2 separate regions of the Homo sapiens genome follow, and region 1 is linked to region 2. Evidence: fine-mapped expression QTL. A gene starts in region 2. The other region holds a variant in brackets. All regions are shown on one strand. Distances are from middle to middle.

Region 1 (5,307 bases), 140 kb after region 2:
AGTGGATGGCTCCAGTGAGATCACGACTGGTAACATTCTTTGTAAACTGGAAGTTCACTTGTGCAGGGTAGTTGGTGTCCTCAGCCAAGCTGAGCATCCCTGACCTCTAGGTAGAGTCCACATTCCTGGGGGCCTGGCCTTGTGCTGTGGGCATACGATTGTGTTTGAAGGAGGGAGCCCACGGGACTTTCTCCAAGGCTTGGATACAGTGTGTTGCTGGGGCTACCCTAACAGTGTGGCCCTTTCCCCCTCATCTACCTGGCACTCTTCTCCCTATGGAGGTGGACTGTGCTGGGCCATGTCTACCTACTCCACGGGCTCCACGGGCATTGCTGGAGGGCTTGGAGATCAACTGAGACTATGAAAAGACTATCTGAATAAAACCAACTAACCTGCAAAACTCTACTAATCTAACCTGCAAGGTATCTGTCTCTGTGTTTCAGAGGTGTGATTTGTTCATTCATTGCACAAAGTTCACTTAGCATTTGCTCTGTGCTAGGCCCTGCACTGGGTGCTGAAGGTGAACGGGCATTCCACAGACATAGGGTTATGATCGTTACCGAAGGAGCCCCTGGTGGCCTGAGCTCAGGGCACCTGAGGGATGCAATGGACAGTGAGGCTGGAACAGATGATGGCTGTGCCTCCCATGTTAGGGTAGGGACTTTGGGCTTTATCTTGCAGGTAGGGAGCCTTTGAAGGTTTTTTGACAATGCCCAGGGAGGTTCCATTAGCTTAGGGGAGGAGGAGCAGGAAGATGAGAACATGAGGAGTTTAGTGTGGGATGTGTTGAGTTTGAGGCTCTGTGGAACATCCAGTGGTTGCCTTGTGGTAGGCAGTTGGATTTATGAGCCAAGACTCAGGAAAAGTTCTGGACTAGGGTTAGAGATCTGAGAGGTATTGGTAGTTGATAGTTAGAGGATTGACTATGAATGGAACTGTACAGGCCAGGCACAGTTACTCACACCTTTAATCCCAGCACTTTGAGAGGCCCAGGCAGGAGGATCACTTGAGCCCAGGGGTTCAAGAGCAGCCTGGGCAACATAGCGAGACCCTGTCTCTGCAAAAAATGTTTTAAAAATTAGCTGGGTATGGTGGCACATGCCTCTAGTCCCAGCTGCTTGCGAGGTCGAGGTGGGAGGATCACTTGAGCTCAGAGATTGAGGCTGCAGTGAGCCATGAATCATGCTGCTGTACTCCAGCCTGGGCAACACAGACCCTGTCTCAAAACAAAACAAAACAAAAAAGCCTTACAGAGTGTGGGGAGGAGAAGAATGAAATGTGGGGTGGTTCAGCCCCCTCAAGTTACAGATGAGCAAACAGGGCCCAGAGGAAAGCCGTTTGCTTATGGCCTCAGCAGTAAGTGTCATTCATCCATTCATTCAACAGATATTTATTGAATACCTGCCATGTACTAGGAGCTAGTTTAAGTGCTGGGATACAGCAGTGAGCAAAACACTCAGGGAGCTTACATGCCGGTGGGCAGACTCAGAAAACAAATTAAATATTATGTTAAGTAGTGGGAAGTGCTACAGATAAAAGTAAAGCAGTGTATTCTTTGATTTTAAAGATAAGGAAAATAGGGCCAGGCGTGGTGGCTCACGCCTGTAATCCCAGCACTTTGGGAGGCCGAGGCAGGCAGATCACTTGAGGTCAGGAGTTTGAGACCAGCCTGACCAACATGGTGAAACCCCATCTCTACTAAAAATACAAAAATCAGCCAGCCATGGCGGCGGGTGCCTGTAATCCCAGCTACTTGGGAGCTGAGGCAGGAGAATTGCTTGAACCCGGGAGGCGGAGGCTGCAGTGATCTGAGGTCGTGCCACTGCACTCCAGCCTGGGTGACAGAGGAAGACTCCATCTCAAAAAAAAAAGACTTTTAAGATTTTGACCTAAGTAACAGGAAGGATGGAGTTGCCACAAGGTAAGATTATGTGATGAGTAGGTTTTAGGGGAGAATTGAGAGTTCAGTTTTGACAGGTTAACTTAGAGCTACCTGTAGACACCTACACAGAGTCAGTAGCAGCAGCAATAAGACCATCATTTCAGCCCCTTCCCCTTCTCTCGGATGCCAAGTCCATGCACCCGTCCCTCTGCACCCTGTCTGTGTAGCTTTCTAATCTCTGGCCGCTGACCTGGGCCACTAGCCACCTCCCCACACTGAGAACTGACCCCAGCCCCCTGCCCCTAGGTTGTGCACAGGGACCTGAAGCCCAGCAACATCCTGTATGTGGACGAGTCCGGGAATCCCGAGTGCCTGCGCATCTGTGACTTTGGTTTTGCCAAACAGCTGCGGGCTGAGAATGGGCTCCTCATGACACCTTGCTACACAGCCAACTTTGTGGCGCCTGAGGTGAGTGGCCCAGCCTCCTCAGCTGTAAGAGTGAGGGGGA[A/G]TTGGAGGCCTTGTGCCCCCTCCCAGAGGCCCCACATTAGCCGGGACTCCAGTCTCTGTGACCTTGGCCCAGCTGGCAAGGGAAGATCTAGCCTGTGCCTGGGACCCTTGTCCTGCCCTTGAGGGGAGTAGCAGGAAACATCTGTGGCGACTTTCTACTGCCCCCCCAGACTGACCACCTCCCCTGCCCTGTTGCCAGGTGCTGAAGCGCCAGGGCTACGATGAAGGCTGCGACATCTGGAGCCTGGGCATTCTGCTGTACACCATGCTGGCAGGGTGAGTGCCCCTGGCCTGGACCCTTCCCCACTCCTGCAGCCCTAGCACTTGGGCTGAGTGGTGCTTGTCTGATAGGAATGGCTCAGCCAGCCCCGCCCCAGGATGGTCTGGAAATAGGGACATGCTCCTGCCTCCAGGAGCTCTACCTTGGGAGTACCCCATCTGAGGGGGAGACACAGTCTCCCACCGCAGCCCCAGCCCCAGTATGGAGGCCAGAGTCTGTACCCAGACCGTGCGGGCTTTTCTGCAGATATACTCCATTTGCCAACGGTCCCAGTGACACACCAGAGGAAATCCTAACCCGGATCGGCAGTGGGAAGTTTACCCTCAGTGGGGGAAATTGGAACACAGTTTCAGAGACAGCCAAGGTGAGTCTGTACGGCCTGCGTGGGCTTATTTGGAGGAGGGAGGCAGGGTCCCATCCTAGGGCTTTTCAGCAGTTCATGAACAGCCTCATTTCTCCAAGCGGATGTTCCACAAATCCCTGTTGCTGTATTTCTCCAAGCGGAAGATTCCCAGGCAGACCACCACCACCTCCGTACCTTGTTGGGGTAACCTGGTGATCATTCATTGGCCCTTCTCATTCTGGACCCTGTGGGGCACTGAGGGCTGCATCATCACAGTCCCGGCTTTGTGGAAACGTAGTGTAGTGAGGGATACAGGTTTGCACACAAGGGGCAGAGATGCCTGGAGGCACAGATAGGCGGACGCTCTTGGCCAGGGGTGTGGACCGTGGAGACACAGAGCAGAGCAACTGGCCATGCCAAGCAGAGCCTCCTCGGAGGAAGTAGCATGTGAGCTTTCAGTATTAGCAACAGTTTTTGGTCATTGGGAACCTGTATGCCAGACAGAGTTGAACCCTCTATGTACGGCCGGCCACCTCACATCAACCTGTGAGGCAGGGAGTGGTTATTCCTATTTCTCAGCAGGGAAACTGAGGCTCAGAGAGTTGAAGGAACTTGCCCAGGGCACTCATTTGATGAGTGCAGAAGGCAAGTTTTGAACCTGAATCTGTCTGAGCCCAAACCTGAGGCTTTTCCCACCTTCCCACATGGCTTTTTGAAGGCAAAGGAGAAATGGAAGGGTGTTCCAGGACGAAGGGCCTAGAGCAGCAAAGGCCCAGCGACAGGAACCTTGGCTGTGTGCGGGGAGCCCTGGAGCAGAGTGGAGAATGGATCCCAGGGGCTGCCGCAAGGGTTCAGGCGGGAGCTAGCAGGAGATGGTTGCCCTCCTGTGCCCCATCAGGGGCCTGCTCCCCTGCAGCCCTCCCCCAACCCCCTTGCCCACTGTGTCCCCAGGACCTGGTGTCCAAGATGCTACACGTGGATCCCCACCAGCGCCTCACAGCTAAGCAGGTTCTGCAGCATCCATGGGTCACCCAGAAAGACAAGCTTCCCCAAAGCCAGCTGTCCCACCAGGACCTACAGCTTGTGAAGGTATGGCCACCCTTGGGCTGCTGGGCATCTGGGGGGTCAGCCCAAGGTGGCATGGTCAGGGACTTGTGGAAGAGCCAGGCAATGCCATGTCTGTACCAAGCACCATGAGGTGGAACATAGGAGAAGAAGACACAGCCCTGCCGTCAGGGAGCCTAACATGCTACAGTGTCACGGTGCACTCACAGCCCCCAATCCTCTGGAAGGCACAGCTGCTGACCTCTGAACCCTCCAGTCTGATGGGGGAGGCAGGACCCATGACCATAAAGGACCACTGAGGCTGGATTAACAGTGGGCTAGGCTGGGCGCGGTGGCTCACACCTGTAATCCCAGCACTTTGGGAGGCTGAGGTGGGTGGATCACGAGGTCAGGAGTTCAAGACCAGCCTGACCAAGATGGTGAAACCCCATCTCTACTAAAAATACAAAAATTAGCCAGGTGTGGTGGCAAGCGCCTGTAATCCCAGCCATTTGGGAGGCTGAGACAGGAGAATCGCTTGAACCCTGGGGGCAGAGGTTGCAGTGAGCCAAGATTGTGCCATTGCGTTCCAGCCTGGGTGACAGAGTGAGACTGTATCTCAAAAAAAAAAAAACAACAAAAACAAAACCAAAAAAAGTGGGCTGTGGAACACTGAGAGGGGCTGGCCTACCCTTGGGGCATGGATCCCCTCCCCGCTACATCTCCCACCATTGTGACCTGACCTCCCCACTTCTCTTTCAGGGAGCCATGGCTGCCACGTACTCCGCACTCAACAGCTCCAAGCCCACCCCCCAGCTGAAGCCCATCGAGTCATCCATCCTGGCCCAGCGGCGAGTGAGGAAGTTGCCATCCACCACCCTGTGAGGCACCAGGGCATTCGGGCCACAGGGCGGTGCTAGCTTGACACAGTCAGCATGCTTCCCAGAGGGAGCAGGCCGGAACCACAGGGCCAGAGGGAGCTGGAACCCGAGGGGCCGGGGAAGCTGCCAGCCCAGAACACCCCTAATGAGGGTGTGAGAAGTGCCTTCTCCTTCCCCAGGATGGACTCTTCTCGGCTCAGGCTCTGCTGGTGGAAAGCGATTCACTGTATAAACTTTTTTTTATGAAAAAAATGGCATCAACCACCATGGATTTTTACAAGATCCATTTGCCTTTCTGGGAGCAGAAACAGCCATTGCGGCCCCAGGAGGGGAACTGAGTCACGCTGGGGCTCTCTGAGACTCTTTAGAG
Region 2 (5,370 bases):
CTGTGCCACTGGCTGGGATGAAAGGATGGGGCCATGGCTTGGGGCATGAGACCCTAATAATACTTTGTCCCCTACTCCTCAAAGCCTTTTACAAATCTTAATTAATTAACCGCTTGCAGCACCCCAAGGAGAGAAATGTGTTGTGGAACTGGGGAAATTGAGGCCAGAGGAGATTCACTGACTAGCTATAAATGCAACATTTTCTTTGAGCCAAAGTTTGCTAGCTTTTTAATGAACATCGAGTTTTTTTATATACATCACAAGTCATCAAGCAAGAACACTGAATTTTAAACATCTATTCCCACTAAGGGAAGGAGGATTTTAAAAAGGAAAAAAAAAAAACTTGATTGGAGGCAAACCAAGTATATTAACACCGTGCAAGGAAACAGGGAAACTGGTTTAAATCCTCAAGCCTGACATTATAAGAGTAAGGGTAAGAAGTTTCATAATCTACTCCAGGGACTTTGTGGCTCCTTAATTGTACCAAAAGTCAAAGCTGACAGTAGAACCTCATGAAGCAGCAAACTACTAGTGGACTTCATTAAATTGTCTTGCTGCAAAATGAAGTAACTTGGACTGAAATTTACTCCCCAGGCTGCAAAGCAGGAAGGATGGAAAAGCTCAACACTATTCATTTCTACTCATCTCTAGGGCTTTCTTTCATCATGTTGCTGTGTTAAAATAACCCCTTTCATTAGAAAGAGTGGAAGACATAATCAATTAGAAAGTGCCAATAAAACATCTCTTCCTTGCCTCATTTCTTTAATAATATTGTAAAATGAAATGCGACAAAAAGGTTCTTTGACAATTGTGAATTTTTATTCCACTCAAAACATAATACTACATAAAGTTGTATTATGCTTTGCAAGAAATACTGGTTGTGGCCGGGCGCGGTGGCTCACGCCTGTAATTCCAGCACTTTGGAAGGTCTAGGCAGGCAGATAACGAGGTCAAGAGATCAAAACCATCCTGGCCAAAATGGTGAAACCCTGTCTCTACTAAAAATACAAAAATTAGCCAGGCTTGGTGGCACGCGCCTGTAGTCCCAGCTACTCAGGAGGATGAAGCAGGAGAAACGCTTGAACCCGGGAGGCGGAGGCTGCAGTGAGCCGAGATCGCGCCACTGCACTCCAGCCTGGGCGACATAGCCAGACTCCGTCTCTAAATAAATAAATAAATAAATAAATAAATAAAAATAATACTGGTTGTATAAGAATCTGTAAAGAATTTTTTCCTCCTCTTTCAATTTTGAGAAAATTGAACTACAAATTTGTTTTGTGAGCCTAGAATTCTTGCAACCCTTTTTTTCGTAAAGGTTCAGTAGAGCTAATGCCCTTAACTTTTCTACCAGGGTTAATTTCTGTTATTTTCATTTATGTACTGCCAAAGCGAGCACCTTTCTGTTATTTTAGAAGTCATGCTTTTTTTTTTTTTCTTTTTTCAGACAGAGTTTCGCTCCTGTTGCCCAGGCTGGAGTGCAGTGGCCTGATCTTGGCTCACCGCAACCTCCGCCTCCCGGGTTCAAGCGATTCTCTTGCCTCACCCTCCCGAGTAACTGGGATAACAGGCGCCCGCCACCACGCCCGGCTCATTTTCTGTATTTTTAGTACAGACGGGGTTTCACGATGTTGGTCAGGCTGGTCTCAAACTCCTGACCTCAGGTGATCCGTTCGCCTCGGCCTCCCAAAGTGCTGGGATTACAGGCGTGAGCCACCGCGCCTGGCCTAGAAGTCATTCTTATGGCAGAAATCTTTCTGGCCTTACCCCTTCTCTTGAGTTCGTTGGGATAGGTCTTGGGAATCCACAAATCCTAAAATATGCGTGCCTTAAGTCGGCACAAAATAGATTAATATTCTGCGCGTCTGTAAGATTGGCTGCGGCTAGAAACTCCTTCCCAGACGATTAAATCCACTAAATAAAATACGAAACGGTAACGAGATAATTTTTAAGAGTATGCACCAGTGCTCTAATGAAGCCCGGTTCTGCGGCATTCCAAGGTAAGGACGCTGCCTTACCCAGTCTCTCAGCAGTCCTAAGCTGCCTTCGACGGCCGAGAAGCGCCTCGATTCTTGCCCCTGGCTCATTTCCCTGGCGCGTTTTCCAGACGCCTCCGCTCCCAACGCTGGGCTCAACCCTGTCTTCCCCAGCTGGTCTCCCAGCACGTGGCCTGGAGCCCAGCCTCCCGCCCCGCTCGGTCACGTGAGCCTGGCTCTCACCCGCGCCGGCTTCCACACCCCGCGGGACTGAGAACCGCCCTCCCACTAGCTCGCAGGCGCAGGCGCAGGGCAGGGTCCCCTCAGTTTGGGTGACGGAAGGGGCGTGTCGCAGCGCCCAAAGATGACGTGTTCTGCCAGCGCCACGTCATGAGGAAGTGCCGGCCCACTGAAGCCGTGGGGACGCGCCCAGCGGAGCTAATCAGGTGCCACTGAACTGAAGGGGTGAACTAGAGGAGAAGAGGGTGACTGGGCGGGGAGCAGCTGCGGGAGAAGCAAAGGGACGACTGAGGGAATAATCAGGAGACCACTGAGGCGTGAAGTACTAGGCGTGCGATAACTGAAGGAGTTAGTAACTGGGAGCACAGAGTTGGAAACAGCTTAGGGGAAGATGGAGAAGGAAGAAACGGGGAATGATCAAGATGTGGGCACCATGATGTGGCAGGAAACCGACTTAGATGTTCAGAAGAAGTCAGTGCAGATACGGAGGAAATGGGAATGGGAAGAAGTCTGCAAAGCCAGGAGAACCGAGGAAAGGCTTTTGCCTCCAGAGGTCACATTGCGTTATAAAACTCTGGGTGGTAAAAGATTATAGGCTTAGACCAGTGTCTTTGGATTCTAATGCTGGCTGCTCTCCATAGTCCATCTGATTCCCCAGAAGTCAGTTATAGCTCTTCGCAAACCTTGGTGACTTCTTATTTTCTTTCTTGTTTATCCAAGATTACCTGGCTGGTGTTTGCTTGTTCTGGAGTGATCTTCTGACTGGAAAAGAACTATGTCATGGATCAAGGAAGGAGAGCTGTCACTTTGGGAGCGGTTCTGTGCCAACATCATAAAGGTGAGCAATGGCCCAGAGCACCGGTTGGCCTTCTGGTCAGTTGGATAATCTTATATAAAAACCTGTTATTAAAGTTGATGATGTTAAGTGCAATTCATGATGTTAAGTGGAATTTAGCAAGGAAACCAAAGAGTCTTAGAATGGTAACTTCCAGGTCTACATTTCTGGTAGACTTTTGTCCTAACTCTGATATTTTCTGGAAGCCCAGGCCTCTTAATGTCACTGGGCAGCCTAGACTGCTAAGTATTCTTTATAGAGAACTGAAATTTGTTTCCCTGGAACATTGATCCATTGTTCCATGTACTGTCTTCTTGATTTAAATAGGTTAATCTTTGATATATTCTTTGATCTGTCAGTAGAGCTGGGCCCGGTCACTCACGCCTGTAATCCCAGCAATTTGGGAGGCTGAGGTGGGCAGATTGTTTGAGCTCAGGAGTTGAGACCAGCCTGGGCAACATGGCAAAACCCCGATTCTCCAAAAAATTAAAAAAATAGCAGGGCTTGGTGGTGTGCACCTGTAGTCCCAGCTACTCGGAAGGCTGAAGTGGGAGAATTTCTTGAGCCCAGGTCAAAGCTGCAGTGAGTCATGATTGTGCCACCACACTCCAGCCTGGGTGACAGAACGGGACTGTCTCAAAAAAAAGAGTTCAGAACAAGACTCTGTCTCAAAAAAAAAAAAAAAAAAAGAGTTTGGGCTCTAGACGCAGACAAACATGGGTGAAATTCCTGTTCTTTTTTTTATTTTGAGATGGAGTCTCGCTCTGTCGCCCAGGCTGGAGTGCAATGGCGCAATCTTGGCTTACTGCAACCTTCATCTGCCAAGTTCAAGCAATTCTCTTGCCTTAGCCTCCCAAGTAGCTGGGGTTACAGGCATATGCTACCACACATGGCTAATTTTTATATTTTTAGTAGAGATGGGATTCTCATATTGGCCAGGCTGGTCTCGAACTCCTGACCTCAGGTGATCCACCTATCTCAGCCTCCCAAAGTGCTGGGATTATAGGACTGAGCCACTGCACCTGGCCTGAAAGTCCAGTTCTATCATTTAGTAATCATGTGACTTTAACAACTGTAGAATTATCATGAGAATTTATGAGACATTAATATAAAGCAGTTAGCATAATGTCTAGCAGTTCTTAATTATTATTAGGATTGTCTTTCAGACATTTGAAGACTATTATCTCCTATCTTCCCCAAATCTTCCCTCAGCTTTTTCTCTAGGAATCACAGCAATATTATATCTGCCTAAGACAGGTTTGAGATTGGGGCCAGTCAGCTTGGTTTTGTTTTTCAACCACAGGCTGTCAAGCAGCAGGTAGTAATGAATTTATGAGTCAGTAACCTTTATACAAGCCCCACACATGCTCACAAACAAATGCCAAGTGATCTCAAGCAGTCCAGGAAATGGGAAGTATCTCCTTGGGGAACCACTGCAGTGGTATGTTTGGAAGAACAAGCTGCATAACTTGAATGGATTTTGGGGGCTGGAAAGGCTGTATGTGAGACAGAAGTAGAAAAAGGAGAAGTGTTGATGAGGAAGCAGTCAGGGAAGAGCCCTCCCAGGTGAGGAAAAATAGGCTAAGGAGTCCATTTGTGTTATGGGAGACAACTCAAAGCTGCTCCAAGCCAAATAAGGGTTTTGTTTTTTGTGGTTTCTTTTTTGAGATGCAGTCTTACTCTGTTGCCCAGGCTAGAGTGCAGTGGTGCAGTCTTGGCTTACTGCAACCTCTGTCTCCTGGGTTCAAGCGATTCTCCCACCTCAGCCTCCCCAAGTAGCTGGGATTATAGGCACCGGCCACCATGCCTGGCTAATTTTTTTTTTTTTTTTTTTTAGTAGAGTTGGGGTTTCACCATGTTGGCCAGGCTGGTCTCGAACTCCTGGCCTCAAGTGATCTGCCCACCTCAGCCTCCTAAAGTACTGGGATTACAGGCTTGAGCCACCACGTCCGGCCCCAAGTAAGTTTTGTTTGGCTCAAAAAAAGTCTTTTTTGTTTGCTTTGAAAAACAATTTTTTTTTTTCAGACAGAGTCTCACTCTGTCGCCCAGGCTGGAGTGCAGTGGCACAATCTCAGCTCACTGTACCCTCTGCCTCCCCGGTTCAAACAATTCTCCTGCCTCAGCCTCCCGAGTAGCTGGGATTACAGGCGCTCGCCACCACGCCCGGCTAATTTTTCTTTATTTTTAGTAGAGACAGGGTTTCACCATTTTGGCCAGGCTGGTCTTAAACTCCTGACCTCGTGATCCACCCGCCTCGGCCTCCCAAAGTGCTGGGATTACAGGCATGAGCCACTGCGCCCGGCTGAAAAGCAAAATTTTAAT

Direction of the effects. Positions count from the first base shown, and alleles are read on the strand shown. Sizes are in standard deviations (SD) of each study's normalised expression.
In carriers of allele A in region 1, the expression in lung of the gene that starts at base 2,364 in region 2 tends to be higher than with G alone (small effect, 0.12 SD a copy in GTEx).

Evidence for each region. PIP is the estimated chance that this variant, and not a neighbour inherited with it, causes the effect. A credible set is the group of variants that fine-mapping cannot tell apart.
Region 1: its variant is the best candidate, but not a certain one, in a credible set for the expression of DHDDS in lung (GTEx, PIP 0.70).

Annotation. Positions count from the first base shown.
Region 1 is chr1:26,569,261-26,574,567 of GRCh38, forward strand. It overlaps RPS6KA1 (ribosomal protein S6 kinase A1), which reads left to right. Exons shown (of 22, transcript NM_002953.4): 18 at 2,189-2,350; 19 at 2,589-2,665; 20 at 2,916-3,033; 21 at 3,964-4,101; 22 at 4,819-5,307. The coding sequence ends at 4,941. Among named protein-coding and RNA genes, the nearest start is that of MIR1976, 17 kb to the left of the region's middle. The variant A/G (reference allele first, on the strand shown) is at 2,391.
Region 2 is chr1:26,429,958-26,435,327 of GRCh38, forward strand. DHDDS (dehydrodolichyl diphosphate synthase subunit) reads left to right here and starts at 2,364. Exons shown (of 9, transcript NM_205861.3): 1 at 2,364-2,419; 2 at 2,934-3,051. The coding sequence starts at 2,989. It overlaps LOC124903883 (a long non-coding RNA gene), which reads right to left and starts at 2,280. Exons shown (of 2, transcript XR_007065557.1): 1 at 2,016-2,280; 2 at 798-1,161. RefSeq lists enhancers at 1-401, 1,583-2,119, 1,904-1,963, 2,034-2,093, 2,120-2,656 and 1 more.